Linked DNA regions of Homo sapiens: region 2 is linked to region 1. Evidence: fine-mapped expression QTL. A gene starts in region 1. The other region holds a variant in brackets. All regions are shown on one strand. Distances are between the middles of the regions. Region 1 holds the start of BRD1 (bromodomain containing 1). Region 2 overlaps BRD1 (bromodomain containing 1).

Region 1 (15,612 bases):
AACTCCTGACCTCGTGATCTACCCACCTCGGCCTCCCAAAGTGCTGGCATTACAGGTGTGAGCCACACACCCAGCCCTGCCTGTTTTTCAAAGTGTTTATTTACCGCTGTTATTATTTAATCATAGTATATCAAACTTACAAAAAAACAGATTATAACCTTAAAACTATCTCTTTTAGCCTGGCGCAGTGGCTCACGCCTGTAATCCCAGCACTTTGGGAGTTCGAGGCGGGTGGATCACCTGAGGTCAGCAGTTCAAGACCAGCCTGGCCAACATGGTGAAACCCCGTCTCTACTAAAAATACAAAAATCGGCCGGGTGTGGTGGCAGGTGCCTGTAATCCTAGCTACTCAGGAGGCTGAGGCAGGAGAATCACTTGAACCCAGGAGGTGGAGGTTGCAGTGAGCCAAGATCACCGCACTGCACTGCAGCCTGGGCAACAAAGCAAGACTCCACCTCAAAAAAAAGGGGGGAAAAAAAAGAACTATCTTTTTTACTTGAAATTTTAATTTTTTAAACCACTAGAATTATAAAAGCAGTCCGTCCCTGAAGGCAGATTCTGTTCTGTCCACAGGGAATAAGGAAGATCCTCTTTCTCTAAAATCTCTAAAACGCTGCTCAGATGGGGTCTCATCTCCCTTCCAGCGTGACTGGCTGGCCTGAAGCATAACATCCTCAGATGCTCTAGGTGGGTCCTACACCGGAGCCATTGGTTAGTGCACACCATAACCAACTAGACTCAGCATCCCCGCCCACGGCTGCACATCAAGAAGCTTCACCATGGGCCAGGCACAGTGGCTCGTGCCTGTATTCCCAGCTGAGGCTGGGAGGAGGCTGAGGCGGGAAGATCGCTTGAGTCCAAGAGTTTGAGGCTACTGTAAGCCATGATCACGCCACTGCACTCCAACGTGGGCAACAGAACAAGACCCTGTCTCTAAACATAAAATAAAAAATAAGAAGCTTCACCCTCATCTACACAGAATTCAAATGCACAGCTGAGGCCTCCTACATGCACCCAGGGGTAGTGCCCAGGGCCTAAGAACAGGGCTGCCAGATCAGCTGCCTCTCAGACCACAGCAAGGCAGTAAACCCGGTTTCAGGCAGCAGTCAGTACTGTATTGAGAGCCTGCCCCTCACAACCACCCCAGAGGTGGGTCCAGCACCATGGTGCCAACAGGCCAGGCGCACTGGGAGCTCCTCCACTGGTGGCAAGGTGGCCTGAAGCACCAGCATCTCCTGGAGACTGGGAAACCCAGACTGCAGAGACCGCGGCCAGGAACACTCGTCCAGGTTTGTTTCTCTCTCTCTACTCGAAGCTGAAATAATAGTTTATTCCCAAGTTAGGAAAAGAACAGAACCACACAGTACGCGGTTTAGCTCCAATACATGCTTTCAAATATTTAGGTCGAGTTTTCTTCTCAATCAGCCCTGGCCACTTCAGCCCCCATGTCCTGCATGCAAACACTGCCTCCTTCAGTCCTGCCTACCCAACATCAGGAGCCAAAGAACAGAGAGCGTGCGGCCCGGCCAGGCCCGGCCTCTCCCAGAGCAGGTCATCATCTGGTACTGGCCAGGGAAGGGAGCACTTCAGACTTTTGGCTCTTCATTTTGTTAGATCACATTTTGTTTATTTTGCTTCAATTTCAGTAAAGCTGAAATTTTTAGACCTCTTATACAGAAGCTCTTAATACAAACCCTAGACTTTTTGACTCATAGGTAGAAATCCAAGCAAAACCATCTCTTCAAAGTCAGATTAATTTACAAAGACAAACACCTTGGTTTTGACAGGGTTTTCCCTGGATGGGAAGGATTATGAGCATTTTTTGTTCATTCTGTCTGAATTGACTAATTATCTGAGTATTTACAGCTCTGTGAAAAGAAACTGGACTTCACTTTGGTAAAGTAGAGTAATATTAACAAAAATCACTTAAAACTTCTTTTTTTTTTTTTGAGACACAGTTTCACTCTGTCACGCAGGCTGCGGTACAGTAGCACAATCTTAGCTCACTGCAACCTCCCAGCCTCACCGCCCGATGCAGCTCAGCCTGCATGCGTCCCACCTGTGCTGTCCTCCCCTCACATGTGGGGCAGGTCTGACACCTCAGAGGGTCCTGCTCACTGACCCCCGGCAGTCCTGGAGGGTCTGTGTGGTACTGGGGCTCTAGGCGTCTCCCCCAGCCAAGCTGCAAGCTCAGCACCAGGCTGGCTCTACCCGCCCTGTTGACCGGCAGGCCCCATCTGTGCTCACAGCTCCTCCCCTTGTTTGGCCACCCTTTCCTCAGGGCATCTGCAGCAAGTGGGGGGCACAGCACGGGAAACGGGGCCAAGGCCACAGCAGTGGATGTCCCGATGCCGGCAGTCACTGGGAAGCCCAGGCCAGAGCCCCTCGGGTTGAAAGTCATACAGAGTTCCTGCGTGGGCTTCATTCCTTCTTAAAGTTTAGTCACTGAAATTCTTAAAAATCTTCACGCACGGCTGGGCATGGTGGCTCACGCCTATAGTCCTAGCACTTTGGGATGCAGAGGCAGGCAGACTGCCTGAGCTCAGGAGTTCCAGACCACCCTGGGCAACATGGTGAAACCCCGCCTCTACTAAAAATACAAAATTAGCTGGGCATGGGAGCACACGCCTGTAGTCCCAGCTACTCAGGAGGCTGAGACACAAGAATTGCTGGAACCTGGCAGCAGAGGTTGCAGAGAGCTGAAATCGTGCCACTACACTCCAGCCTGGGCAACAGAGCAAAACCCTATTTAAAAAAAAAAAAGGCTGAGCAAGTGCTGTAATTCCAGCACTTTGGGAAGCCAAGGCGGGCAGATCACTTGAGGTCAGGCGTTTGAGACCAGCCTAGCCAACATGGTGAAACCCCGTCTCTACTTAAAAAATACAAAAATTTGTCGGGCATGGTGGCGCACGCCTGCAGTCCCAGCTACTCAGGAGTCTGAGGCAGGAGAATTGCTTGAACCCAGGAGGCGGGGGTTGCAGTGAGCTGAGATTGCGCCACTATACTCCAGCCTGGGCGACAGAGTAAAACTCCGTCTCCAAAAAAAAAAACATAGAAAACTACAGATTATTCCAAGCCTACAGACTAAAATCTTTTACAACATCTATTCCCCAAAAAGACGTGGTAAACAAGCAGAACCACACTTCAGGGGAATATTAGGAAGCTGCGCCAACTAGAAACGCAATGACCACACAGCACGGGCCCTGCAGGCTGTGCCCACGTCCTCCCAGGGTCCCACACTGCAGGCTCCTTGTGGACTCAATGCTTGGACACGCTTACCTCTGCGGGGGAATATAAGGAGCGCACACGGTCGGCAGGACCGCGCAGGGCTCAGCCAGAGCTTTCTTAGCCTTTTTTGCCTTCTTCCTGACCTTGGATGTGGACCTGACCGTTTTAACCGAGCTCTCTTTTCGACAGACGCCATTTTTCATTTCGACATCCCCGTAAATATTCAGAGGCCTCCGGGTGCAGCCTGGAGGCGTGTGGACATCACAGTAAGCGGTCTTTCTGACGGAGAAGGTGGTGCCACCGCCAGTCAGTTCCTTCACGGGCTCCATTTTCATGTACAGGCCAGCCTTCTGGGCACACGTCACATGGAATGCTGTGTAGCAGTTTGCTTTGTGGCACTGGATGCAGGCACCCACGCCCTTCTGCTTACAGAGGTAGCATGTCAGTTTCCACCGGGCTGGAGGGATGTTCCTCACCCCATCGATGGGCTCGATGAACACCGTGTTGGCAAAGCCGACCTCTGGGATCCACAGGGCACACACCACGTGACCCCAGCGGTCGTCATCTGTCTTTTTGAAGGCACCACCCTTGTTGGGGCACAGCACACAGTCGGCGGGCCGGGCCCGCGACTGCAGGCAGTGGCGGCAGAGCCACTGGCCCTCGGGGATGTAGGGCACCCCGTAGCACTCCTGGTGCACGGCCAGGTTGCACATGTCGCAGAAGAGGATCACGTTGCTGTTCTGACACTCCCCGTCCATGCAGATGCAGCACACGGCGTCCTCGTCGATCAGAGACTGCTGCTCGCCCTGCTTCTGGTTCTCGCAGTGCGACTCCTTCTCGAAGCGGTCCATCAGGAACTCAAACATGCTCTGCGACACGGCGGGGACGCAGTCGCCCTTGCGCTTCTCATTGACGATCTCCAGCCAGGCATAGTCCTCCTCGTCCATGTCATACTCCACCTCGTTGTCCAGTTCCTCGGCCGACTTCTCGATGAACTTGTAGTACACAGGAGGCCTCCTGGGGGCGGACGGAGGGCTGTACTCCACGATGCGCACCTTGGGCTCCGGGAGGGCACTGGCCGAGGCCGGCGTGCCGTGGGCGCTGGGGAGGGCCTCGTTTTTCTTTTTGACTCTGTTGTTTTTGTGACGCTTAGTTCTTAAGCAGACAGGAGGCCGCTCGCTGTTTTCCTTGTTGCTGTTGCACTCACTCATCTCTTGAGCAGTGAGGTCATCTTCCAATATGATCTCCAGGGGATCAAAAATACTGATCCTGTGCAAGCGCCCTTCAATTTCTATCTCTACCATCCTTTGAGCTTGAGCGTAGGTCAGCGTTTCTCGCGTAGGGGAGTGTTTAACACTGCATGGGGAAGAAGGATGCCTCGCTGCAGAGCCTCGATGACATCGTCCTTTCCTCCTCATTTGGTAATGATTACCTAAAATGAAGGCAAAAGTAAAGGTAATTCTACGCAGGGTGACCAAAGACTCGAGAAAACCACAAAAGCATGCTTGGACAGATCTAGCTCAGCAGCTCAAAGCCCAATCAAAGCAAAACTCACAGCTAACCTCTTTCCAAGGTGTCCAAAACCACACATCCAGGCCTGAGCGAGTCCCCAGGACCAGGGAGGGAGCAGCAGTAACAGGCAGAGAGGCAGCCTGAGGAGCCCTCCTGAGCACCTGCGTCCCTACCACCACACACCAGTCCCCTCTCAGACCACACCAACAGGCTGCGGAGACCACAGCAACGCTCCCCAAGGAGGAGGGGTCCGGCCCAGAGCCCACAGTTGCAGGACTTTCCCAGCATGCAGGCGGTCCCCCAGGAAGTCCACATACAGGGCTGGACCCCACCAGGCACAGAGGCTATGCCCACCAGACAGGCATGCTCAGTGGCTACCTGGTCCTATCGGATGCTCCCCCTAAACCACTCTTCCCCTCCCCACTACTCCCAGGAGAGCACTCCCATGAGCCCAGAGTCACCACAGTCCTTGCAGCATTCCTGCTGGGGCCAGGGGTAGGAGACAGATCACAGCCTGTCCATCCTCTATAGACAGGCCCTCCACACGCACAACACGGCACAGGGGACCAACAGGGGAGCCCTGTACTGGTCTGAGGGGACAGTCTTGGCCCCTGGGAGGCCCCAACCCCGCTTCTGCAGAGCCTTGGCAGTGACCACCATGGAAACCACCACAGGCTGAGCCAACCTGCCCCTTCCCCTCAGGGGCACTCCTCAAGCCCCACTGAGACCATGGTGCTGGCCACGTCCTCCTCCTTCCACGTCCTCCTCCTTTCTGAGAGAATCCAGACACATGCATGACGCCAAAGGGAATCTCTGTTCTCCCCGGCACACGTGAAGGCAGACGCTCCACTCAGGCTCCACAGCGAGGGGTGACCCCCAGGAACCCCTCGCTGCTTGCAGAGACCCTCACCAGGAGGGTCGCCAGCGCTGGCTCAGGTGCCTGAAGACTTGGCCACAGAGGCTTAGGAGAATCTGCTTTTCCAGAGGTAGGCAAAACCAGTGAGCTGCCTCCCATACCTCCAGCTCCTCGTGGCAGAGGCCTCTGCTGTCCCAACACCACGGACTGCGTCTATTCCTAGCTGTCCCCAGGGTGCCTGGTGTGTGGACACCTCCTGTGAAGACCACCGCCTGCTGGGCAGTGCCTCCCTCCAAAGCGCCACACTTCACTGACAGGAAGCAAAATGATTTTTCAGTGACTGACTCGCAAAACAAATATTCTCAGCTGAAGCCCAAGGCATACTCTGCATCTAGCCCTGCCACGTCAGGGACGCCTGGCCTCGGGGCCCAGGGGGATCAGGGGCACCCACAGCAGCCTTACCCTGATCTATTGGGCCTGAGAAAAAGCCCTCAGGGAGCAGGCTTCCCTCTGTGAGTCCCGAAAGGAAATCCCAGCAGACTTCAAGAGCACTTCTTAAGACAGACCCTCCAGACACTGGGTATCTTTCTCTGTATCAGACAGAAATCCTCATTGTATGTTGAAACTAGATTGCAATTACCTACAGAAAGGAATAGGAGAGAAAATGTGGTCGGCCAAACCTCAGACCCCCTGCATCTCCAGGGCCTCCAGGTACCCACTCAACCCTGGATTCCTGGGGAGCTGTCAGCACAGCCACCCCCCAGCCGGCCCCGTGAGCCCTGCAGAGGTGACACCACAGCCTGCAGAGAGCGACCCTAGTGCACCCGGGACGCCGACACGCGTCATTACTGAGGTGGGGCAGAAGCAACAGTTGGTTACTCACCAGATCAGAAACGAACCTGTCATTTTCCCCTCGACAGCAAAGTCCTGAGTCGCCCTAACGACAAGCAGCCCCTGGAAACCCACTCTCTCCCAGGGAGCCGTGAAGCTCTTCATCGCAACACTTTCTACAAGGGGAGAACTGAACCGAAGGCTTCACGGCCACAGCAGCTCCATACCCTCAACATGCAACTGGGACCCGGGGAAAGTAGGCCCTCAGCAGGGCAGGGCGACCCACGACCTCCTCTGCTTCACCGCTTCCCCCCTGGGCCGGTTCTGTCCCTGGCCCTTCCACTGGGACAAGCATTTCCACTGGGAGGGATCCGCGGGGGCACACACGTAGCTTCTCAAGGAATAATTCCCTTAAGTACATCGAAGAGCCCTGCGGGCCACAGGCGGGGAAGGCTGCCCACAAGACGGCCGCTTCCATCTTCCCACCGCCCGCCCAGGGAGAAGCCGGCCACGCGCCGGGCCTCTCGGTCAAGGCCACAGGGGCCGCGGCCGCTGAGCTGTGCGAAGTTGTGTGCAGCACACAGCACTCGGGACGGCGCTGGGCCGGCCAAACAAAAACATCCGCCGATTCCACTAACTACACAACCACCTGGCGACAGACCCTCAAAAACAGACACGGGCGGCCGCGCTTTCTGGGGAGACGGGGCCGCACCCCGCGGGGCAGGGGGTCCCGCTGCTACGGATTCTCAGAACTCCCGCGTCCGCTCACAAGAGCCGCGTTTCCCGTGAACTGCGCCTCAATCGTGTCACTCGTTTTAAAAGGCCCGGGGAAGCCTCGCGTTCGTCGCGAGGCGTCTCCCTGCAAACGCCCGGGGAGGCCGCGGTGCCGGTTCCCAAGCCCGGCCGCCGCAGGCCGCGCGGCTCCTGGGCGATCTCGGGGCGCGTCCCTGCTCACAGGGAGTTCCCGTCTTGGCAGAGCTCGGCGGGCCTGTCTGTTACATAAGGGGCGGCCCGGCCGGCTCGGCGGCTGCCCGAGGCCCGACCCGACTCGAGCGCGGACTCCGGGCAGGCGCCCGCGGCCCAGGCCGCCGAGACCCACAGCCCGACTCGGCCTCCCTCGACTCCCCGGCCTGACCTACCCGGTCTCCCCGCCCGGCCTCCCCGTCTTCCCGCCCGTCTCCCCGGCCGCCCGGCCCGACCTCCCCGGTCTCCCCGCCCGGCCTCCCCGGCATCCCGGGCTCCCGGCCCGCAGACAATGCGGAGCCGCCGCCGCCGCCGCCGCCGCCAAACATGGCGTCGGCACCACAACCCCGAGAGGCCGGGCCGAGGCGGCGGCGGCGGCCGGGCGGCCCGCGAGGCGGCGGGGAGGCCTCCCCGGCCAGGCCCCCGCCCACTCACCTTCGGGGCGCCGCGGCCGCGGGAGCCCGGCAAGCGGGCGGGCGCGGGGGCCGGCGCGGCCGAGGCGGTGCTAATGGCGCCCGCGGCTCCTCCGCCAACGGCCGCGCAGGCCGGGCCCCGCCGCCGCTCCTGGGCGCGGGCCCCTCTCGGCCGCGGCGGCTCCGGGCCCGGCAGCGGCGGCCGCGGACTCTCGGGCAGCGGCTCGCGCGGCGCGGGCTCGGGCTCGGGGCCCAGCTGGAGGCCCGGCTCGGGGGGCCCGGCCGGCGGGCGCGGGCGCGGGCGCGGGAGCGGGCGGCGGGCGGCGGGCGCGGGACGCGGGGCTGGCTCGGACTCCAGGGCCGGGTCGCTCGCTCGCTCCCCAGCGAAGCAAACAATGCGGCGAGCGCTCCGCCCGGCGCGCTGCGTGCGAGACGCGCCCCGCCCGCCGCCGCCATGACGCGCGGACTCCGCTGCCTCGGCCGCGCGCGGGGGAGGGGGCGCCGCGAGGAGCGGGGGCCAAAGGGGGCCCTGAGGCGGCGGGGACCGGGCTGGGAGTGGGGGGTCGGGAGGATGGAGAGTGGGGGCCCTTGAGTTAGGGAGGACCGGGCCAGAAGGTCCCTGAGGGGGTCAGGAGGATGGAGAATGAGGGGCCCTGAGGCAGGGGGACGTAGGCCTAGGAGTGGGGGGCCCCGAGGCAGGTGGGGAGCAGCCGGGAGTCGGGGGCTTTGAAGCAGGGGGGTACCGGCTGGGAGTGGGGGTCCCTGAGGCAGAAGGGCATTGGCCCAGGAGTGGGGTCGCTGAGGCAGGAGATGGCCCAGGAGTGGGCGGCTCTGAGGCAGGGGCTACCACCGGCCTGGAGTGGGGGGCCCACAGGCGGGGGGACGGGCCGGGAGTGGGGGTACCTGAGGCAGAAGGACATTGGCCCGGGAGTGGGGGGCCCCGAGGCAGGATGGGGGAGCAGCCGCCAGTCGGGGGCCCTGACGGGGGAACGGCCAGGAGTGGGGGTCCCTGAGGCGGGGGGGACCAGCTGAGAGTGGGAGTCCCTGAGGCAGAAGGCCATTGGCCCAGGAATGGGGGGCCCTGAGGCAGGGGGCGATTGGCCCACGAGTTGGTGGGGGCCTGAGGCAGGGGGCGATTGGCCCACGAGTGGGGGGAGGCCTGAGGCAGGGGGCGATTGGCCCATGAGTGGGGGGCCCTGAGGCAGGAGGCTATTGGTCCGGGAGTGGAGGTCCCTAAGAGGACAGAGGGGGCCCTGCGGGGGCACTGGGTGGGAGTGGAAAGGGCACTGGCCGGGACACGCGACTAGGTAGAGGTGGGTGGTGCAGCCGGGCTGGGGAGCCTCCCCTAGTGAGTGTCAGGCCCGGTGTGCAAGTAGTCCTGCCAGTGTGAGGGCCCTGCCGAGGCCGGCGTGAAGCAGATGCCCTTTAAGGTTGCAAGAAAAGGCCCCTGCGGGTGGGAGTTGAGAGGCCTGAGTCTCTGCCTTCACTTTGGCCTTTTGTGTAAACTCTAAAATTCAGTGGGGTCATAACAATTTTCACTCCAAGATTAAATCCCAAATGTTTTAAGGTGAGGCAGGAGCTCCTTGGTTTCCTTGAGAATTTGTGATCAGGACGATGGTGCTGTGGAATCCCTGGGTTCCAGCAGCACAGCCTGTGGCATCCAGGCAGGCCCCTCAGGAAGAGCAGCTGTCCACCCTGGGACAGACCGTCCCCACGGGGGCAGCCGAGCGGCCCCACTGCTCGGGGCACTGCACCAAACACCTTATTGGGAGTGGGGTGGCCTTGTTCGCCCAAGTGTCCCTGATAGGGGCCAGGCCCCACAGGCCTTTTCCTGGCCAGTCCTCATGCCCATGGCACCCAGTGTGTGGGTTGTGACGTGACGACTCAAGGGCAGGTAGGACCCCAGCCAAGGCCCCAGTGGTCAGTCCTGATCTAGGACTCCCTGCAGACACACCCTTGAGCTTAGGGGGTACAGGCCACTGGGGCCCTGACCTCTTCTGCACCAGACCCAGGAGCTTCGTGTCACCTCCATTCTACAGATGTCTGTTTACCTGTGGCCAAACAAGCAAGCTGAGCCCGAACGCTTCTCTCCTCCACCTCAGGGAAGCCAGATGGAAACCAAGCTGGAGGTTCTCCACAACACAGAGCAAAAGTAAGACACAGTCTCATGAAAGAGAAGATGAAAAGACACGAAACCCTTCACAGAAGAGGAGACGGGGACAGTGGCCTCTCAGACAATGCAGGTGATGCTCAGAGGAGTGAAGAACAAAGCCTCGAACGTAGGCATGTCACAGGGATACTCAGGAAGGCCTTCGGAGAGGATCTTCTTTAGAATTCAGACTCATCCTACAGAGGAGGGGTTGCCAAAATACTAAGAGAATTGAACCGTAACTCATACACAGTGAAACTAGCGTTCCAGTGAGACAGCAAAATAAAGGTGTCTTCACCGCCGGTTAACATCCACATTTACCACACACGCAGTCTGTAAAAGTACTAGAAGAAATACCTTAACAAAGTGAAAAGTGGACCCAAGAGTAAGACGTGGATGCCAGCAAGTAAATCAGTCTGGTCCGTTAAAAGAAAATCAACCTGAGAGAAATCCCGGATGAACTCAACATGACACATGGTAAGGCGGGGCGCAGAAGGAAGTGAAAGTGCACGAAAGCTCTTGTATTGTTTGGTTCGAGGATTTTAGAATCGATAGAAAAAAAGGTTAAAAATTTTAGCTGGGCATGGTGGCTCACACCTGTAATCCCAGCACTTTGGGAGGCCGAGGCGGGCAGACTACCTGAGGTCGGGAGTTCAAGACCAGCCTGATCAACATGGAGAAACCCCATCTCTACTAAAAATACAAAAAAAAAAAAATTAGCCGGGCGTGGCGGCGCATGCCTGTAATCCCACTACTTGGGAGGCTGAGGCAGGAGAATTGGTTGAAACTGGGAGGTGGAGGTTACAGTGAGCTGAGATGGTGCCATTGCACTCCAGCCTGGGCAACAAGAGCAAAACTCCATCTCAAAAAAACAAAAAAAAAAAGTTTTAACTATCAGAAAGTTTCCACAAGAATGGTGGAAAAAGAATTTACCACTTTCAGAACAGCTGAGGAAAAAGCGAAATGAAAAACGACAGCAGCAACAACAAAAAAAAAACAGGAATGAGTAAAAGATAAAATCATGATAAATACAGAACATAATATGAGTTGGCAGAACTAAGTTCAAACATTTGAGTAATCAGAGGAATGTGATTGGATTAAATGCATCTATTAAAAGACAACCTCTCTGAATGGAATATAAATATGGTGAAATATTCTTACAAGAAATTCACCTGAAAAATAACAGATGAAAAATAAAACGATGGGGCCAGGCACAGTGGCTCATGCCTGTAATCCCAACACTTTGGGAGACCGAGGCAGGTGCATCACCTGAGGTCAGGAGTTCAAGACCTGACCAACATAGTGAAACCCCATCTCTACTAAAAATAGAAAAATTAGCCAGGCATGGGGGCACGTGCCTGTAATCCCAGCTACTCAGGAGGCTGAGGCAGGAGAATCACTTGAACCCAGGAGGCTGAGGTTGCAGTGAGGCAAGATTGCCCCACTGCACTCCAGCCTGAGTGACAGAGCAAGACTCCATTTCGTAAATGAAAGGATGGAAATTATCATATGTTTGTTCCTCAAAAGGCACCATAAAGAGACTGAAGAATGAAAAACTAAAAGATATGTACACCTTGCAGATGATTAGTATTTAGAATATATAGAGAACCCCTTCAGATCCATTAGAAAGAGACAAACAAGCCAACAAAATGATGCACAAAACCCAAATCAACAAAGAAACCCATGTCATAATCAGGCTTCTTGCAGAGAACATGGAAAGGCCAATCATCTTACTAGTAAATTTGGAAATGCAAACAAAATACACACCAAATAGGCACCAGCGTTCATATGTGGCAATACTCAGCGATGGCAAGATGGCAGAGCAATACCCTGCTGGCCAGAATGTCGAGTGGGACAATTATTTGGTAAATATCTTGGTCATAAGGCGTTACCCAGTGAAAGTGGACATGTTTATCAGTTACCTCTTGCTGCAAAACAAACCACCCCCAAAACTTTGTAGCTCAAAACAGCAGTCATTCCTTTTGTTCACACATCTGCTATTTGGGCAGGATTCAGCAGGTACAACTAGACTACTTCCTGCATCCTTATCTGGGGCACCTCCACTAGGGGCTGGAGGAGCCACTTCCAAGATGGTGCACTCACGTGGCTGGGACCTTGATCCAGGCTCTGGGCTGAGGGCCTTGGGAACATCCTCATGGAATAGTAGCCATGCTGCAGGAGCAAGGGTCTCAAGAGAAGCAGGTGGGACCTGTATCACTTTTCACATCCTAGCTTCTGAAGTCACACGCATCACTTCTGCCATAGGGACAAGCCTGTCCAGATTCAAGAGTTAGGGAGAATACAGACCCCACCTCTTGGGACATGTGTTATCATCACATTTTAAGAGAAGCATGCTGTATGGGAGAAGTTGTTGTGGCCACTTTGAGAAGATGCAAGCTCCCCCAGTGTGCATACCCATTCCCGGCTGTAGGGTTAAGTCAATTTGTATTCCTAGGTGCATTCCGTGCCTGGGTGTGTGCCTAAGAAACCTGTTCATCAGGGCCGGGCGCCGTGGCTCACGCCTGTAATCCCAGCAGTTTGGGAGGCTGAGGCAGGCAGATCATGAGGTCAGGAGATTGAGACCATCCTGGCTAACACGGTGAAACCCCATCTCTACTAAAAATACAAAAAATTAGCCAGGAGGCTGAGGCAGGAGAATGGTGTGAACCCAGGAGGCAGAGTTTGCAGTGAGCAGAGATTGCGCCACTGCACTCCAGCCTGGGCAACAGAGCAAGACTCCATCTAAAAAAAAAAAAAAAAAAAGAAAAGAAAAAAAGAAACTTGTTCATCAGGAAGCATGTGCATGAATGTTCAGAGCAACACTGTTTTTGGTGTTTTTTTTTTTTTATTTTAACGCTGTTTTTAATAGCAAATACTGGGAGAAATCTTAAATATCAAAGGACGGTAAAATGGACAAAGTGAGGTGTATCCACGCAATGGAATAGCACACAGCAACAGAAATGAATGAATTCCACCACCAACACGGCCAAATCTCAAACACATAATTTTAAATGGAAGAAAGAAATCTCAAAAGATTACAGAATATGATTCCATTTACACTCAGCAGACAGAGCTAGGAAATAAGTATGTACAAACACACACACACACACACACACACACACACACACACACACACACACACCCATATCTTTTCTGATACCTCTTAGCAAACCTTGAGTTCATACTGATACCTGTACCTCCAGTTACAATCTAGCATGGAGTTGATTCTACCCTCCTCTGTTTCTACATAACTATCTATGCCTTCACTTAGTAGCTCAGTCCCCCGCTACATAACCATCTCTAGGCTATACAGGACAGAAACTTGGCCCCAGACACAACCACTGCCCCCCATTTTGCACCAGCCAAAAATGCGGTTCTGGGGGCATCACTGCTCTCCAGAATGGTTATATCTGCAGGCTGAAAGCACAGCCCAAGAAAAGGCAAGGAGGAGGATGCTCATGTTGTTTCTGATATTCTGTTTCTGGCAGGAATAAGACAAAACCCTTCTTCTTTGATCTATCTCACCTTTAATTTATTTAATTTTTATTTTTACCCGGTATCTGCAACAATCTACTTTAGGAGACTATCCTTTCACAAACATTAAAACGTTCTTTAAATGGTGTTTTTCTCACTTCAGAATTCAGGAAAAATAGTTTTACTGACATTTACTTTTAATAAAAACGTAGTAATTTGCATTGTTGCAGTAGAAATTTGTCCTCCTTGTCACCAGGATATAATCAGACAAATTAATAGTGGAGCCCAGGCCTTACATGGGTGTCATATTTGAGAATAACTTTCCTGTGCTTCCACAACACGCCCACCTTTAAGGAACAAGGGTTGTGGCTTGTGTGCTGAACCAATGCCCACACAACCCTCAGACCCATACTGGCCGGGCACCTGTACTCTGGCACACAAAGCCTCAGCCTCACAAGTAGTAAGAAGGATACTTCCTGGCAGGCCAAGAGCCATGGCAGACACTGGAACCTTCTGGAAGATAGAAACTTGCACACACACAGGTCCCGCGGGCACACCTGAGGGAGGTGGATTTGGTTCGGCTTCCTGGCCTAGGAACAGAAGAGCAAATAAGAGAAATTAAAAAACAAAAAATCTCAGGTGTGATGTAGGCTCAGTCCTACATTCCTTATGATGACACGTCCAGACAGAAGTTGATTTTCCGGCTTGGTCATTGCATAACGCCATCTGGTTTACATGTGTCACCTAACAAGGACACTCGTGCGTGGTAATTACCACTTCTTGCAGCACCTGTGTAGATGAATTAGGTCAGAATGCAAGACTAGCTTTCTGTGGTCAAGAATAACCTTCGGAGATTATTTATCATCCCAAGAGGGAGCTAATAAAAATGTCCCAGATTAAGGATTAGACACCCCAAAATGAGTGTGTCCATTCAGTGGCAGGCTATGTTCCTGAGCAAGCCTGCCAGGCAGATTTTCGGATCCTCTGGAGTGTGCGCCTGCTTAACTTGCTATATACTATTGATTACGATATTTTACAACTCAGCAAGGGTAGACTTTAATTTGTTGAAGATAGATGGCTAAGTAAAATTATTCCTCTCTGACAGCAATGCAAATAAATTTTGCCCAGTAGTGAGTGATAGAAATTATTTCTGTCCAGTGGAAAAGATTACAGTAAAAAAGGTTGCAGTTTGACTGGGCGCAGTGGCTCACGCCTGTAATCCCAGCACTTTGGGAGGCCAAGGTGGGAGGATCACCTGAGGTCAGGAGTTCGAGACCAGCCTGGCCAACATGGTGAACCCTTGTCTCTACTAAAAATACAAAAATCAGCCGGGCGTGGTGGTGGGCGCCTGTAATCCCAGCTACTCAGGAGGCTGAGGCAGGAGAATTGCTTGAACCTGGGAGGCGGAGGTTGCAGTGAGCTGAGATCAAGCTATTGCACTCCAGCCCGGGCGACAGAACAAGACTCCATCTCAAAAAAAAAAGAAAAGAAAAAAAGAAAAGGTTGCGGTTTATGGCCCTGTAGAACATTAACCAGTTTTTTTAAAAATCTAAATAAGCAGAATTACTCAAACTTTTTTAAGTCACTACAAATACTTCCTTCTCTCCAATCTTTTGAACCAGCCTCACCATCATGCTGGTTTCCTCATTAATGATTAAAATAAATCTTTGACACGTCTTCACTTTAGAGTTGTATGAGTCATGTTTTTAACTTTTTTTTTTTTTAAGACGGAGTCTCGCTCTGTCACCCAGGCTGGAGTGCAGTGGCGCGATCTCAGCTCACAGCAAACTCCACCTCCCAGGTTCATGCCATTCTCCTGCCTCAGCCTCCCAAGTAGCTGGGACTACAGGCACCCACCACCACGCCCGGCTAATTTTTTTTTTTTTTTTTGTATTTTTAGTAGAGAAGGGGTTTCACCATGTTAGCCAGGATGGTCTCGATCTCCTGACCTCGTGATCCGCCCACCTCGGCCTGCCAAAGTGCTGGGATTACACGCGTGAGCCACCGCGCCTGGCCCTGTTTCTAACTTTTTAAAAAGTATGCTTTGACAGCTCCAACATCTAGCTGCCTTCTCAGCCTCTCCTCCAGGATGTCCTGTAGGCATCTCGAACTCAACGTATCTGGCACTCAGCTTTTGGTCTTCATCCCCAAACTTCTCTGCTGTCTCCTTCCTCGGTTATGGGTTG
Region 2 (15,612 bases), 45 kb before region 1:
CCAGTCCTGCTCCAGGCACACCATAGGCAGGTGGCCCCGAGCCCCTGCGCCAGGTCCCAAGTGCAGCCAGCTCCACGGGGAACCAGGAAGCACCTGCCCGGGCCACGTGCGCAGGGCACAGCCGGGGCCACAGCTCCTCCCAGAGGCATGTGCTGCCAGCGTGTCCTGCACAGAGGGATCTTGGGGTCTAAACCCTGGCACATGAGGGTCCCAGACGCTCTGGGGAAAAGCAGCTCAGGGCACAGGGGGAGCCTCCTGTGATGGGGTGGATGTCTGAGCAGAGCTGGATGATGCTGGGACAGAAGGCTCTAAGAACAGGGCCAGAGGCCAGGCCCGGGCAGGGGCCATGTCCTGCAGTACAGGGGTCCGGGAGCACAGCAGAGGGACCCCCAACACTGGAGCGGACACATGGGTAAGGAGTAGGGAAGAGACAGTCCAGACCAATGGGGCTCAGGCGAGAGGGAGAGGAAGCCATCGGGCAGAGACAGACCCGGTGCTCAGTGCCCGTCCCACAGTCCCGGCGAGGGGGCTGGGCAGTGCCCTTCTCCACCAGGCAAACAGCGGAGCACTCACCTCCGACTTTAGCTGTGCCAGGGCCCAGCAGACAAAGACGCTGCTCACCACAGGGACACTCAGGTCACCGAGCCCACGGCCCCCAACCACCCCAGCCGGTCCCCGGAGTCTAAGGCCTCTCAACTCACCAACTTCTCTTATTATCAAAAAAGAGAACGAGGAACAGCTTCTCATCAGACTTGGTCTGCATGTGCTCCCCAATCTTCAGCACGTCCAGGGGTGGGGCCGGGATGGTGACGCCGTTGTGGTGGCCAGGCACACGGGGCATCTTGGGGTCGATGATCTGCACGAGAAGGACCCGCTGAGGTCATTGTGAGGCTCACACCCATAAACAACCCCACCTGTCACTGGCACCCCCCCCCGCCTCCCCACCCCAGCTGTGTGAGCCTCCTCAGACCACCCCCACGCCCCCCTCGCCGAACCACCCCTGCCCCTTCCAGCTGTGTGAACCTCCTCTGACCAACCCCGCCCCCCCGCCAGCTGTGGAACCTCCTTGGACCACCGCCGTGAGCCTCCTCGGACCACCCCCGCCCCGCAGCTGTGTGAGCCTCCTCTGGACCCGCAGGCGCCACGAGAGCCGTACTCACCAGTGCCGGGTAGGAGGGGTAGCCGCTGCACTTGGCCCACACCACCTTCAGAGGCTCCAGCACCGAGGCGGCGGCATCAGTGGAGATCCACATGCTGCTCTGGCCGACTTCTGCGGAGAGGGGCGTCAGCAGGACACAGGCGTCAGCAGGACACGGGGCACGCCCCGCCCCCCCACAAAAGGTGCAGCAACAGGGTGGGTCCCCCGAGCACAGCCCAGCTCCCAGGCCTTTCTCAGCCACCCCGGCAGCACCACTGCCTCCCCTGTGGGGTCCAGGCCCTTGCATCCCCACTGTCCCTGCAGCCCACCTGGGGCCACCAGCCTCCCACGGACCCAGGGAAGCTCCTGCCCTCCAGGCTACAAGGCTCCAACTCCAGGTGCCCAGCACAGTCCCTTCTGAGCCCTCCTTGCCGCAAGGACGGGGCTCCCAGCATGCTCCTGCCTCATTTACACAACTGACACCCCAAATGGGAAACCAAAGTCCTGGCTCCCCCTCCGCCAGACCAGCTCCCTGCTGTCCCTCCCACCTGGGGGATCTCCGTCCTGATGCCCCCTCACAGCATGGCTGCCTTCCACAGTGAGGGCTGTGCGACCCCAAACCCTGGGGCCTCCCCCTCCCCCAGGGGCCTGAAGTTGAGGGCACCCACCCTGCAGTCAGTCCCCTGTGCAGCTGCAAATGACCACTGAACCTAAACAACCCCAGACAGCCTTGACAGTGCCTGGCAACCAGCAGCCACACAGAGCTGGACGTTCCACAGGGAAACGAAGGCAGGATGGAGGAGGCGCCACCTCCGCAGGCACCCCGGCAGGGCCACAGCCCAGAGCCCCTCGGTGTGTGATGAACCCTTCCCCGGGAGGTTGGCCAGGGTGGGGCTCCACACAGGGCACCATGCTCCCTGAGCCGGAGTCCAGTCCCCAGCAGTCGAGCCCTAAGACGCTAACCAGGAGGTGTGGAGAGCCATGGAGGCAGGTCCGGGCGACTCACCGGCTGCGATCCTGGCCGCCTTGGCGTAGTTCCCATTCTCGATGCAGGAGATCAGCTCACTGCGGTCCTCCAGCGTGTGCCGTCGCACAAGAGCCGGTTTGCCCCGCCCACATTTGGGCGCATTAAAGCTTCGGGAGGAAGAGCAGAGGGAGTCAGGCGCCCCGCCCCTGCCTTCAGCCTCACTCGGGCTTCGTCCCGTGAGCTGTCCGCCACCAAGCTGGCCACGCATCCTGCCTGACACCCCCGCGGCCAGACGGGCCTGTGGGTGCGCAGGTCTGGAGGGAGTGAACCTGTGGCAGGGGGGACTCAGGAGGCCAAAGTGGCCTTCACAGGGCAGACAGGCAGGGCTGTGCTCATTGCCAGATTCTGGGAGGTAAAGATCAAGTGTAAAACTTCATTGCAGATTCTAAAATTGTGTTCCTATTTCACGCAGTGTTTTTCCTACTTCTGCTTGAATTCTATAAAGCAGATTAATATGCAGCATGGGAAACTGTCCACAAGGGCAGAGCACACATGAATCCCAGGCCAGAATTTTTCAGAGAACACTAAGATGGGAGCTGGAATGTCCCGGCTTCCAGGACAGCCAGGCGGGGCGGGCGGTGCTGGGAGCTGCGTGGTGGGAAGCGCAGGGCCGCGGTGCCCACCTCGAGTCGCAGAGCGGGCTGTTGCTGGAGGAGATGCTGGACTCGGAGGCACAGCGTCGTCGGGGTGTGGCCTTCCTCCCCAGGCCGCCGCCCGGCTCCTGCTCGCTCCTCGCACCCCCAAAGCCGTTGGTGAGACCTGGAACACAGGCGGGCAGGCCCTGAGCTCAGCACAACCAGGGCACACTGAAGCATGACTCAACGACGTTACACTTGGAACACATCTTACAAAGCACGTTTCACAGACAGGTAAGACAGCATCTTCCTTTTCACTCCCAAGTTCCCGAGCATAGTCCTTACAGTAAGCAGACACCAAAGTTACTCGTTAAATGAAATCAACTTAACAAACTGCAGTCGGCTCCGATCGTAGTAGTTTGCTGAGCACCATGAAGATGCTCCTCTTGACAAGCCCGGGTCTTTAGACAGGCTCTGTGAAGGCAAAGAAAGGATGCCGTGAGCCTGCCATGGGGGCAGATGTGCAACCTGTGAGTGCAAACACGGGGGCGGCCTGTCCACGTGGGCACCGGCCGCGTTTGAACGGAAACTTCACCAGGCCGAAGGGGCCACCAAAGACACAAAAACATGTTCACAGGAGCAGAGCTCCAGGGAATAGGAAATCAGGTTTTAAAAAGAAAAAACCTTGGTTCAAAAGACAAGTGTTAACATGAAGTCAAAAATGCTGACGAAACACTTTAAAACACAAAATCCGGGGCCATCGCCGTGTCTGAGTGTGTCTGGCCTCACTCACCATGAAGCTGCAAGTACTGTACACAGCTAAACAAAACACCACTCACAATTCCATCATCTCAATGTTTAAAAAATAAGGCAAATCTCAGTATTTTCCCCCTAAAAATCCTGACTTTGTCAGTCAACGGGAAACAACACATCTGCCCAAGGCCCCCCGATGAGGTCCCCCATGGGAGTCACAACGGGGGGATGATGTTCCTGCTGGGGGCCCTCTGGGTGTCAGAGCTAAAGGGGTGTGTGATTTTTTTTTTCTTTTTTGAGGCGGAGTCTCACTCTGTCGCCCAGGCTGGAGTGCAGTGGCACGATCTTGGCTCACTGCAAGCTCCACCTCCCGGGTTCACGCCATTCTCCTGCCTCAGCCTCCCGAGTAGCTGGGACTACAGGCGCCCGCCACCATGCCTGGCTAATTTTTTGTATTTTTAGTAGAGACGGAGTTTCACCGTGTTAGCCAGGATGGTCTCAATCTCCTGACCTCGTGATCCGCCTGCCTCGGCCTCCCAAAGTGCTGGGATTACAGGCATGAGCCATGACACCCGGCCATGTGAATTTTTTTATCCAAAAAGAACCCCGTTTTCCTGCCTACCTACCTCATCCTTAAAAAATTTTTAAATCTATTTCCAAAGGAAATTATGTAAATTTGTAAATAGAGCATTTCTGTAGAATTTTTTTGGAAACGATGTCTCACTCTGTCACCAAGGATGGAGTGCAATGGACTCCATGGCTCACTGCAACCTTGACCTCCTGGGCTCAAGTGATCCTCCTGCCTCAGCCTCCTGAGTGGCTGGGAGGCATGTTTTGAAGGGAATGGCTGGACTGCGGGATTTTCCACCCGCTTCGTACGCTTCCCGTCTGTTCTCAATGAGCACGACCGACTTTTCAATACAGGGGCTGAATCAGCCTCCACCCGCTTCATACACTTGCTGTCTGTTCTCAATGAGCATGACTGACTGAAACAGAGGGGCTAAATCAAGCTCAGAAGGGAATGCACAGATTGGGCGGGTGCACTGCTGCCCTCCACAGACTCAAGTCAGACACCGGCTCCGTCTCTCCTGGACTGGAATGTACCGTGACCTCCAAGGGAAGCTCTGTGTTTCTCATTTTAACCTCGGTCATTTTAAGGCAGGAACTGTGGCCAGTTGGGGGTGTCATACTCATTTCTGGCAAGGGAACAAATAAATTTAAAAACCTACAGGAGAAGGCCTTGAGCCACACGCTGAGCTGCCCTGGGGCTCCACATGCTCCCCATACTCATCACAGAGTGGGCTCAGACCCTGCACACTCAGGCCCCGAAGATGTCTCAAGAGGGAATTAAAAGTCCCGTCCTGGCCCCCGAGAACCCCTCAGGAGCAGCGACTCCATCCCTACTCCAACCTGAGTGGGTGAAGGCAAGGGAAGCCCACCCAGCTCGCATCAGCAGTGGACGGACGGAGCCCAGCACCCCTGCCAGCATTCAGCCCACAGGCCCGGAGAGGGGTCTGCCAACGCGTGTGACCCGTCTCCAGAGAGCAGCCACGAGCCTGGCGACCCACACCCCACAGCCCGGCCCCCAGCACACTCCAGACCCCAGGTGCAGGGTGAGCCTGCTCCAGGCTGAACAGACGCAGCCCAGGGCCTGGGTGGGGAGGCTTTTAGTAGTTACTGGTTGGCCGAGCAACGGCCACTTGGGGGAAGACGATGACCAGTGCGGCCTTCACAAGACTGCCCAGAGGTGCCAGCCTGAGGGCCCTAGCACGAGATCACCCGCAGCTGTGCCAGCACCAACACAGCCAAGCCATGCACAGACCACTCAGCAGCCACGACGGCCCCGGCTCCGTGTGCATGGAGTGGGGCCAGGAAGGGGATTAAAACACAAGGCAAGTCCTTAATTCTCAGAAAGAGGAGAATGATAAAATGCCCCTCTTAATTTTCCTAAGCATTCAGTGAGTGCGCGTATGACGCAAGAACACACAGAGGTTCTGCGTGTCACCCATGAAAATGTGACAGCACCCGGGAAGACGTGGGCAGCACAGACAAACCCAGCCCAACCGAGACACCACCCAGCAGGAGGCCTGGCGGGGGTGGGACAGCTGCAAGGCTTGCTAACAGGCGGTCTGGGGGCTGCGGCAGTGCGGGGTCACCCAGGAAGCCAAGAAGCCAGACCAGGACACAGACACATCCCGGGAGGCTCTGCAGCCACCGCCTGGAGTCCCCAGAACCTCGGGGGAGCTGCAAGGTGGCCTGCGCTGCCCGGACCCTCCCAGCCTCCACCTGGACCACCAGAAAATAATCTAAGACAGCTATGGTTCTGAGATCTCTCAATCTCGGCCCTGCCAACTCCCGCCCTGGGAGGCTCTTCCAGCCAGCTGGGAGATGTCCACCATGACCCGCACCTCAGCACCCCTGCAAGGACCTCAGCCCAGAACATTCTGAAGCCCAGGCCAGCCTTGAGGTGGGGCCCAACGTGGGGAACCCAGGGCCTAAGGTCTGCAGAGATGGGTGCCCGGTCCATGAGGCATTTGCAAACAGCAGGCACTGAGGCCGAGCCCAAGCCTCTAAATCATGTAAATAGCAAGGGGCAACTTTCAGCAACTTTTTCAGCACGAGGTTTTTTTTTAACGCTGAAAGTAAAGCTGGTGACTGTGAGAAATACGTTAAAAGAGGCGGCGGCTGCCAGGAAAGAGCCGCTGCCCCATCAACACAGGAGCTGCACGGAATTCCCACAGCGGCCAGGGTCCACCCACCCTCAAGGGCCTTCCCAGTGACCTCCTAGGAGGCCAAAGACTGAACACAGAAATGTCCCTCTCTGCCCCCAAAGGAGATGGCGCAAAGGTGTCCCACAGCCCAGCCAAGCGCAGTCCCCGGAAGCCTGCCCGTCACCAGGTACGTCCACAGCACACCTGAAACTGTCCCGGGAGGTCCCCAAAGGGTCTTCTGAGAGACTGAAGGCCACAGCGGCTGAGACACCGCCCCTCCCCACAGGGAAGAGAAGCCCCAGGGCCCACCTGGGGAGGCGGAGGCCTGCAGGTCTGACTGATGGGCCGTAGTCTCCTCTGGTCTCAGGCTCCCAGCCCCCAACCCATGTGGACACCACAAATCCTCCAGGCCACAGGTGTAAGAACACCAGGCCCTGATCAGTGGCTGCCGAGACACCTGAGGGCACGGAGCCATGGGAACGCAACCCCACAACACGGGATACAAGCCCGCCCCTGCCCGCCCCTGCCGCTGGCACCCAAGCTGCCACCTCGGCTTCTCCGGCTCATGGGAAGCTTGGCCGTATGAAGCAGGTGGGCTGAGCCTGCACCCTGAAGACCAGAGCCCTGAGGGCCCCACGCAGTGACAAAGGAGAGCCCACTATCTCCTGTTTTCAGTTTCACTTTTACCATCGTTAAAAGAAGAGCAGTTTTGGTGCATTTTTCAACCTCTCAACAAAAACACACACGGAAGAAGATTCCAACAGCACCCTGCTCTTGCTGGGACCTGCTCCGTGACAATGCAGCCGGGGACGGTCAGAGACCGACCCAAGGCCCATGTTGCTGGGACCTGCTCCGTGACAATGCAGCCGGGACGGTCCGAGA[C/CA]AGACCCAAGGCCCAGGCCAGATGCCTGCACAAGACTTGCTCCGTGACAATGCAGCCGGGGACGGTCAGAGACAGACCCAAGGCCTATGTTGCTGGGACCCGCTCCGTGACAATGCAGCTGGGACGGTCAGAGACAGACCCAAGGCCCAGGCCAGACGCCTGCACGAGACCTGCTCTTGCTGGGACCTGCTCCGTGACAATGCAGCCGGGGACGGTCAGAGACAGACCCAAGGCCCATGTTGCTGGGACCCGCTCCGTGACAATGCAGCTGGGATGGTCAGAGACAGAACCAAGGCCCAGGCCAGACGCCTGCACGAGACCTGCTCTTGCTGGGACCTGCTCCGTGACAATGCAGCCGGGGATGGTCAGAAACAGACCCAAGGCCCATCTTGCTGGGACCCACTCCGCGACAATGCAGCTGGGATGGTCAGAGACAGACCCAAGGCCCAGGCCAGATGCCTGCACAAGACTTGCTCTGTGACAATGCCGCTGGGGACAGTCAGAGACAGACCCAAGGCCCATCTTGCTGGGACCTGCTCCATGACAATGCAGCTGGGACGGTCAGAGACAGACCCAAGGCCCATCGTGCTGGGACTCGCTCCGTGACAATGCAGCTGGGATGGTCAGAGACAGAACCAAGGCCCAGGCCAGACGCCTGCACGAGACCTGCTCTTGCTGGGACCCACTCCGCGACAATGCAGCTGGGATGGTCAGAGACAGACCCAAGGCCCAGGCCAGATGCCTGCACAAGACTTGCTCTGTGACAATGCCGCTGGGGACAGTCAGAGACAGACCCAAAGCCCATCTTGCTGGGACCTGCTCCATGACAATGCAGCTGGGACGGTCAGAGACAGACCCAAGGCCCATCGTGCTGGGACCCGCTCCGCGACAATGCAGCTGGGATGGTCAGAGACAGACCCAAGGCCCAGGCCAGATGCCTGCACAAGACTTGCTCTGTGACAATGCCGCTGGGGACAGTCAGAGACAGACCCAAAGCCCATCTTGCTGGGACCTGCTCCATGACAATGCAGCTGGGACGGTCAGAGACAGACCCAAGGCCCATCGTGCTGGGACTCGCTCCGTGACAATGCAGCTGGGATGGTCAGAGACAGAACCAAGGCCCAGGCCAGACGCCTGCACGAGACCTGCTCTTGCTGGGACCCAGCTCCATGACAATGCAGCTGGGATGGTCAGAGACAGACCCAAGGCCCAGGACAGACGCCTGCACAAGATCCCACGCACAGATGCCCCACCCCACGAGCAGGACTTCTCAGTTGGCCGCAGGGGCACTCAGCGTGGTGACCAGCAAGAGACAAACAGCAGCACTGCTCAAGAATCCACTGGGCATTGTGGGGAAAAAACAGAGGAAGGGGAAGTAAGGGGAGAAGGAAATCAGGTAGAAAACCCAGAAATACAGAAGATGCTAGCGAGTGAGTGAGCACGCACTGTCCATGCCACATCCTCAGACAGTGCCGAGCCAAGTTCCTCCATACCCCATGGCACAGACACAGCACAACGCGCCTGGGCATGGCCGTCACACCCAAACCACCAGTCACTATGGGACGGCTCCGCACATGCTCAGGACAGCCTCAGAATGCTGTCCACTGTGTCGTCAGCTGCAGCAGGCTCCCAGTCGGTGCCGGGCTCTCCTCTGCGTCCTTCGTGACTGTCCAGAGGGAAGGCTGAGGTGCCACGACATCCCGCCAGCTCCAGGCGTGCACCGGGCGCCAGCACCATTCCCACTGCCGGGCTCTGACTTACAGAGGGGGTGGGCTGGGGTGGGGGAGAGCTCCTCCAGGGCTGCTGTTTGTGATTTTGTCTAGAGGATGTTTGAGCTGATGATTCCAATGTGATCCGCAAGAATTAAGTGAAAGGCAAGATGCAGTGATCTTTGTGCATTCCAAAACGGCCGCTTAGCAGAACTCCAGTCCAAGTTGAGGTAAGAGAAAATGATTAGGGTCCAAAGAGTGAACTACCCAGCACATTAGTGGTTAAAGTGAGAACCTGGAAAACAGTGAAAAAGCCATTTAGTCTGAATGAAAGGGCAGGACAGCTCAGCCTCCTCCCTGAACAGCCGAAGGACACTGAAGACACCCCCGCGCTCTCACGCCCCAGCACGTGCACATGGAGACTCGCAACAGGGGTCTCCGCAACGGCAGCGAGTGGACAAAGACATCCCCACACTCTCAAGCCCCAGCACATGCACACAGAGACTCGCAGCAGGGGTCTCCGCAACGGCGGTGAGTGGACAAAGACACCCCCGCGCTCTCACGCCCCAGCACGTGCACAGGGAGACTCGCGGCAGGGGTCTCCGCAACGGCGGCGAGTAGACAAAGACACCCCCACGCTCTCACACGCCCCAGCACGTGCACACAGAGACTCGCAGCAGGGGTCTCCGCAACGGCGGCGAGTGGAAGGCCGCTTCAGGTGACGGTTCACTGCTGGTGAGCGTGCAGTCACGGAGGAAGGAAGCCACGAGTCAGGGCCAGACTCTGGGGCTGGGCCATCGCAGGAACAGAAGCCTGGCGCACAGCACAGCCGGCCCGCGGGCGACACGGGCAGGAGGCCCACAGTGAGTGCGTCGCCTCAGGACCAGCGACCCTGTTCAGCCTAACTCAGAATTGTGCGTGTGCTGGAAAATGCCAGATAACTCCCTAAAGTTCAGAGCACACAGATGCATGTATGGAAAACATCAGAAGGTTCCGGATAATTCCTGTCCTAAGACTGCGAAGAACTGCAGCTCTGGGCAAGAAATCCCCCATGTGCAGAGCACCAGAAGGTTCCGGTGAAACCAAAGCGAGGGCGGATGGCGGGACTGGCACCATTCAGAGCACGCCCAGCCCTTCCCCGGGCGCCTCGGCCACAGCAGTGGAATGCCTCCCACTCCCGAGGGCCTGGTCTTAATGCTGCTGAGGCTCCCGGCTGCTCAGGAGAGAGCTCAGGAACTCACCGCACCTCCACGGAAATCCACTGTCACTCGGAAATGAGAGAGCAGAAATCTCCACTTCAGTCAGGATCAGAGGGCACCATGATTCTCAAAAGCCACCATGGGCCACGCTCACTGAAGGTCTGCAGTAAGACTGCTCTACACCACCGTCACCACGGGAAGCCCGCAAAACACTCCACTCCAATGTAAGACAGTGGCCCGGAGGGGACACGTGCTCTTCTACAAGGGACATCTGATGAACGAGCCTGAGAGGTTGCTGAGGACGTGGCCGCCAGCCGGCAAAACTGTCCACAGTGGGAGCCCACAGCTGGGGCAGGGCCCGGTCAGGTGGGGCCACCTGGTGGAAACCACCACGTGAGCATCCTGCTGAGTGTCGACGGGAGGCCGCCTCAAACCCCAGCCCCACGGCCGGCAGGGCCTCCACGCACGCAGCCCCATACCTCTGCCGCCGACAGACGTGAAACCCCGAGGAAGTGGAGCGTCAGCCGAACTCCAAGTTCTGCATGCAGAGGGGACGCCCACAATTACACTGACCCAACCTCTAGTACCCAGTGCACAGCACCCTGACCCGATTCATCACAGAATTTCCGGGGTGCTTGGAAAACCAGGTCAGAGTCTTTCACCAAAGGTGGCTAAGAAAGACCAACGTGGTTAAGACACATCCCCCAGTCCTGAGTCAAGGACATCTATTCTTATTGGTATCTTGTGAAACATTTCAATAGCTTCCTATTACTTAGAAAGCAAAAAAGCTTTTTCAAATTATTTTAAAATGCCAATTTAACATCAATCCATCAAAGTAAAAGGACATGGGTAGAAAATTTCTACACATTCAGTTACGTGCAAAATTTTCATACAAATCAAAATGAAATTTACCAGAAATTACTTTGGCAACAAGACGCATGACCTGCTTGCTGGCAAGGGTAGGAAGTGAGCCTCCTTCTGCACAAAGACCTTTGACAGTGCCTGGTCTCACTCCCCTCCCCGGACGCTTCAGGCCAGAGACCAGCAGAAGGAACAGGGACAAGATGTGAGGGAGTGGCCTGGGCAGGTCTTGCCCACCACAGCCTTCCATCTGCACCCGGCCTGGTGAGGCTCCATGACACAGGACTCACTTGCTGCCACTCTGGGAAATAAGCAACACCCACCCAGCCCCACCCTCTCTCACTGCTCAAGTGCACGAGGCACCACGGCACACCAGCACAGCCAGGAGAAAATGCGCATCTCCTTATCTAGGTATAACAGGCAGACAGGACAGACGGGAACCAAGCCTTGACTCGGGACAAAAACCAAAATGACAAACATGCTCCAGACACGCTTCCAGAAAAGAGTCGCTGGCAACCTGAGCCGGCACCTCCAGAAGCGCAGCCAGTACCGAAGAAGCAAACCGATGACAGCTGCTCCTCTTTAAAGGACAAACTCCTCAGCTTCCTCTGAGGGGCGGGGAGCAGAGGCTGCAGGAACACAGCGGCCTCCTCAAAGTGCTCCCAGCACAGCACACACACGGCAACACCCTCACCGAGGAATTCAACAGAGTTCAGTTACAAAAGCGCAGCAAGAGATGAGAAGCGCTTTCCAGTGCTATTTCAGCAGGTCCTAATACCTCATCACATATGTGGCTAAGAGGGCCACATAAAACAATGAGTAAATGTTGCTGAAATCAACTGCAAAGTACTGCATTTACCACAGGGGCAGGTCCTCTCAGAGGTCCAGGGAAGGGCCAGGCTCAACCCCAGGTCCTAGGTCTGTGGGGCTGCAAGGAGACCTGACTGAGGGTTGCAGAGTCGAGCTCCCACAAGTGCTGGGAGCGGCCAGTCACCAGCTTATCCAGATGTGCACAGCAAAGTCAAGATGACCAATTAAAACTACACCTGAATTCATTCTCAGTACTTTTTTAAAGATCAGAAGGGGCCAGGTGCAGCGGCTCACACATCTAATCCCAACACTTTGGGAGTCAGAGGCCAGGAGTTCAAGACCAGCCGGGACAACACAGCGAGACCCCCATCTCTACCAAAAATTTTCAAATTAGCTGGGAGTGGTGGTGTGCACCTGTAGTCCCAGCTACACAAGAGGCTGAGGCAGGAGGATCACCTGAGCCCAGGAGTTGGAGGCTGCAGTGAGCCACTCACTCCAGCCTGGGTGACAAAGCAAGACTCTCTTAAAAAAAAATCAGAGAGGAAGTATGTGGCAGAAGACAGGACCAAGGACCATCGACCCCTGGCCCAGGGCAGCCCAGCAAGGTTGCACAATCTCTCGTGGCAAACAGGCCCCCCACGAAGGCGCCGGCCTCAGACCCGCAACTCAAGGCTTTTCAAAGAAAACACTGCACTGTTGTCTTCTCTGGAAATTAAGAGAATGCTGCAAAAACAGAAGCTGGACACCCCCCCCCCCCCGTCACACCAATGATCCTGAAGGACGCTCCAGGCACTGGTCGGCAAGGGCGCCTCTCAGGGCCGCCCGCGGCATTTACCTGCGTCCAGGCGCTTTCCTGGGGACTCCTCCTCCACCTCGGAGTCTCCGCATGTGCTCCGCGACCTTTTCCTTGGCTGCAGAAGAGTCTCCAACCTCGGAAGGACTACAGACAAAAAGGTTTTGGTCCCTAGCTGAGGAGAAGTTGGCTGGGTTTCAGTGTTCTTGGCAGACTTTGGGGGGCTTACACTTTTCGATTTGCAGAAGAGAACAGAAGTGCGTCTGTTTACATCGCTTGCTGGCTCCGCCACCGCGGAGGCCGCCGCCGCCGGCACATCGCCACTACTGGCGCGGGTGGGCTCTGGAGGGCGTCCGCTTACCAGTGCGCTCTGAGTGCAAGCGCTATGTGATTCATTATCAAATGTGACTCTTTTGAAAAGTTTACTCTGCTCTGGGTTGAGTTCTACTGGTTTGAGGGTTGGTGGTTCTGAATTAGTCTCCGAGTTTGAAGGAAGAGGTAATGCATCTGATGGTTCAAGTTTAGGGGGAGATTTATCTCCTGAAAAAATTATAAATAAAGTGATTTTTGAAAACTGAAGATTATAAAATCTATTATAAAACTTACTATAAATGTGAAGTCCACCAAAATACTAATTCAGTTAAGGAAACAAGGCATCGCATGTACTGTCTGCTCGGCAGTGTGGGCCCCGTGGGCTCGGGCCACACTGTGTGTGCTTCCCTAACGCCAAAGGCTGCGGCCCTGGGTGCAGTGCCCAGGCACACAGTTACTCTCTGAAAAAAACTGTGAAAGATTATTTCACATGCGCCAATATTAAACACGTCACTCGAGTTCATGACAGTTTCTGCAATGAATAATTCACTTACCTTGAGGAAGAAAAGGTATCTCACATAACTAAAGGGGCCTTAAACGGGCATTCCCACAGAGCTCTACTGGGCCACGAAGTTAGCAAATAAAAGGAAGGCAACATTAAATCTGATCTCTGGTCAAGGTCTTAAGTCAAAAATGCAAAAACAAACAAACAAACAAAAAAAACAGGGAGTGGTGAGTGGCTGTGGATGATTTTCAAGAAAGGCAGGGAAAAAAGCCCCGCTCCCCACAGCACAGAAGTCCGTGCCACGTTCCCAAATATTGTGATGGGAGCTTTCAGGAAAAAAAAATCTGACTTTTAAAAATAAGAAGTCTTTGGAAAAAGACGGCTTTAACCTCTTTTTAAAGTCTTTTTGACATTATAAAAACCGGAAGTGTGAAATGGTAAAAAGCCCGAGGTCAGGAGGACGGCCTGGGGCTGGTCTGTGGGGCTCTGTGCACTGTCCCGAGTCCAGGGGGCCGGACAGGCTCTGGCACGAGGCTAACAGGGCGAGGCGACGCCACAACAAGCCAAGCCCAGCCACTGAGGCTTCCTTCCAAGCAGGACCGGTACTGACAACAGGAAGTGTGACATAAAACCAAGGATTTTGTGATTATTTAAAGTGACATAAAACACTTTAAATAATCCTTAGTATATATTATCACTGGGTACAGTTTTCATTTCATTAAACCTGCAAACTTTCCTAAAACCGTTTGAAGTATGTATGGTTACTATTGTCATTCAAAAAGTTGTTTTGAAAATACAAAACTACACAACTTAACAGGACTCAGAGCAATGTTTTGAGGCTGAAGAAAGTTCTCCCAAGGCTGGGCCATGACGCCGGGCAGCAGTGCTTTCGGCTGCGAGGTGCCTCTGATTTTAAATGACACTCGGCGCCTTAGAGCACCTCACAGCCAATTCAAATACAAGGGGGAAGCCTCACCTCAACAAAAAGCCTCCCGTGTCAGCCGCAGGGAGCACAGCTGTCATGTGGGAATGCTGGATCCCAAGGCAGGGGCACATGCGAGGTGACAAAACTCCCTCCCTCCTGTTCAATGTCGCCAACAGGCTTAAGGAAAAGGTGTTTGTGAAACACCTGGGAACACTGGCCGGAGGGAACTGGGCAATGCGGAGAAGGGCTGCTGAAAGGCTGCTCATGAGCATCCCTGGTGCCTGTACAGCAGCAGGAGGGGATTCAGCACTGAGCCTGCAGCGTCCTGACGCAGCTGGTGTCTGGGGCACAGGGCCTGGGGCCTCACTTCACTTCCTGCCTCCTCTTCCACCTCCTAGCCTCCCCCCCCCGCCCCGAGCTCTCGCCCTGATTACGACATTCAACTGCTCACTGCAATCCCAATGGCCTCTGCAGGGCCAAGGCCAGTGGTCAACCCCAGTCTTGGCCTCTATGGGTGCAACAGCACCCGGCCAGCAGAGATGGAGCCTGAAGGAGTCTCCTCCCAGCACCTCCGGGAGACCCCCCTTCCCCCAACCACCTACAGCCCACCTTCTCCACAGCTATCTAACGGGCACCGTAAACCCCCATCTCCTGCTTCTGGTGCAACCCTCAGAACCACCACTCCTGTCTGGCAGGAGCCCTGAGACGTGCAGACGTCCCTGCCTTGCAGCAGGCCCTCCCCAACCATGGTCCACAACCCCTCCTCCACACCTCCAGCTCTCGGCCCAGCTAGGATGCCCCATGTGGGACTCATAACCATCTCCACGCTGCAGGGACTTCCCTAACCCCTGGTCTATCCCAAAGCGGGCCCCTGTGGCCCTGTCTCAGCCATGCATGCACCCCACACGCCCCTGGCCTCTCTGCGGCAGCTCCACATGCAGGCCGGGCTCCAGCCGCCAGCACGCAGGCTAAAGGATGCGTTCCTGCAGCACTGACCAGAGGCACAAAGGAGGCCGTGGTCAGGAACAGAGGTCGCTGTCGTCTGGGTGCTCAGCCACCTGCCCAGCCGGGACCACACAGGCCCCTCCCCCAGCCGGGACCACAGAGGCCCCCGGACCGTTCAGTGCCTCAGTTCCTCATCCATAAAATCAGAAAAAAACAGGACCTGAGCCTCCAGGCTCCACGACACAACAGGCAAGCCCAACCCGTCCCTCGAGTGGAAATGTGACTGGAAGTTGACATACAAGAAGGAAGACTCCTCTCAAAGCTCACTGACTCTGGGCCATCTCAGGCTGTCACTGAACTGCACATGGGAAAAGCTCAGAACATGCTCGATACAACTCGGGCATAAGCCTCTCAGACCCCGTCAATGTATCAGTCAGGATCCTAGAATTCCAGTCCCTGGAACTTGT

The links.
Region 2: its variant is fine-mapped to the expression of BRD1 in whole blood (TOPMed, PIP above 0.99).

The regions. Positions count from the first base shown.
Region 1 is chr22:49,819,672-49,835,283 of GRCh38, forward strand. BRD1 (bromodomain containing 1) reads right to left here and starts at 8,202. Exons shown (of 13, transcript NM_001304808.3): 1 at 7,826-8,202; 2 at 3,280-4,660. The coding sequence starts at 4,646. It overlaps LOC105377205 (a long non-coding RNA gene), which reads right to left. Exons shown (of 5, transcript NR_188597.1): 5 at 12,778-14,016. RefSeq lists enhancers at 4,878-5,457, 6,667-6,866 and silencers at 7,367-7,536, 8,267-8,336.
Region 2 is chr22:49,774,890-49,790,501 of GRCh38, forward strand. It overlaps BRD1 (bromodomain containing 1), which reads right to left. Exons shown (of 13, transcript NM_001304808.3): 8 at 12,501-12,998; 9 at 2,789-2,924; 10 at 2,145-2,272; 11 at 1,161-1,270; 12 at 702-856. Among named protein-coding and RNA genes, the nearest start is that of BRD1, 45 kb to the right of the region's middle. The variant C/CA (reference allele first, on the strand shown) is at 7,087.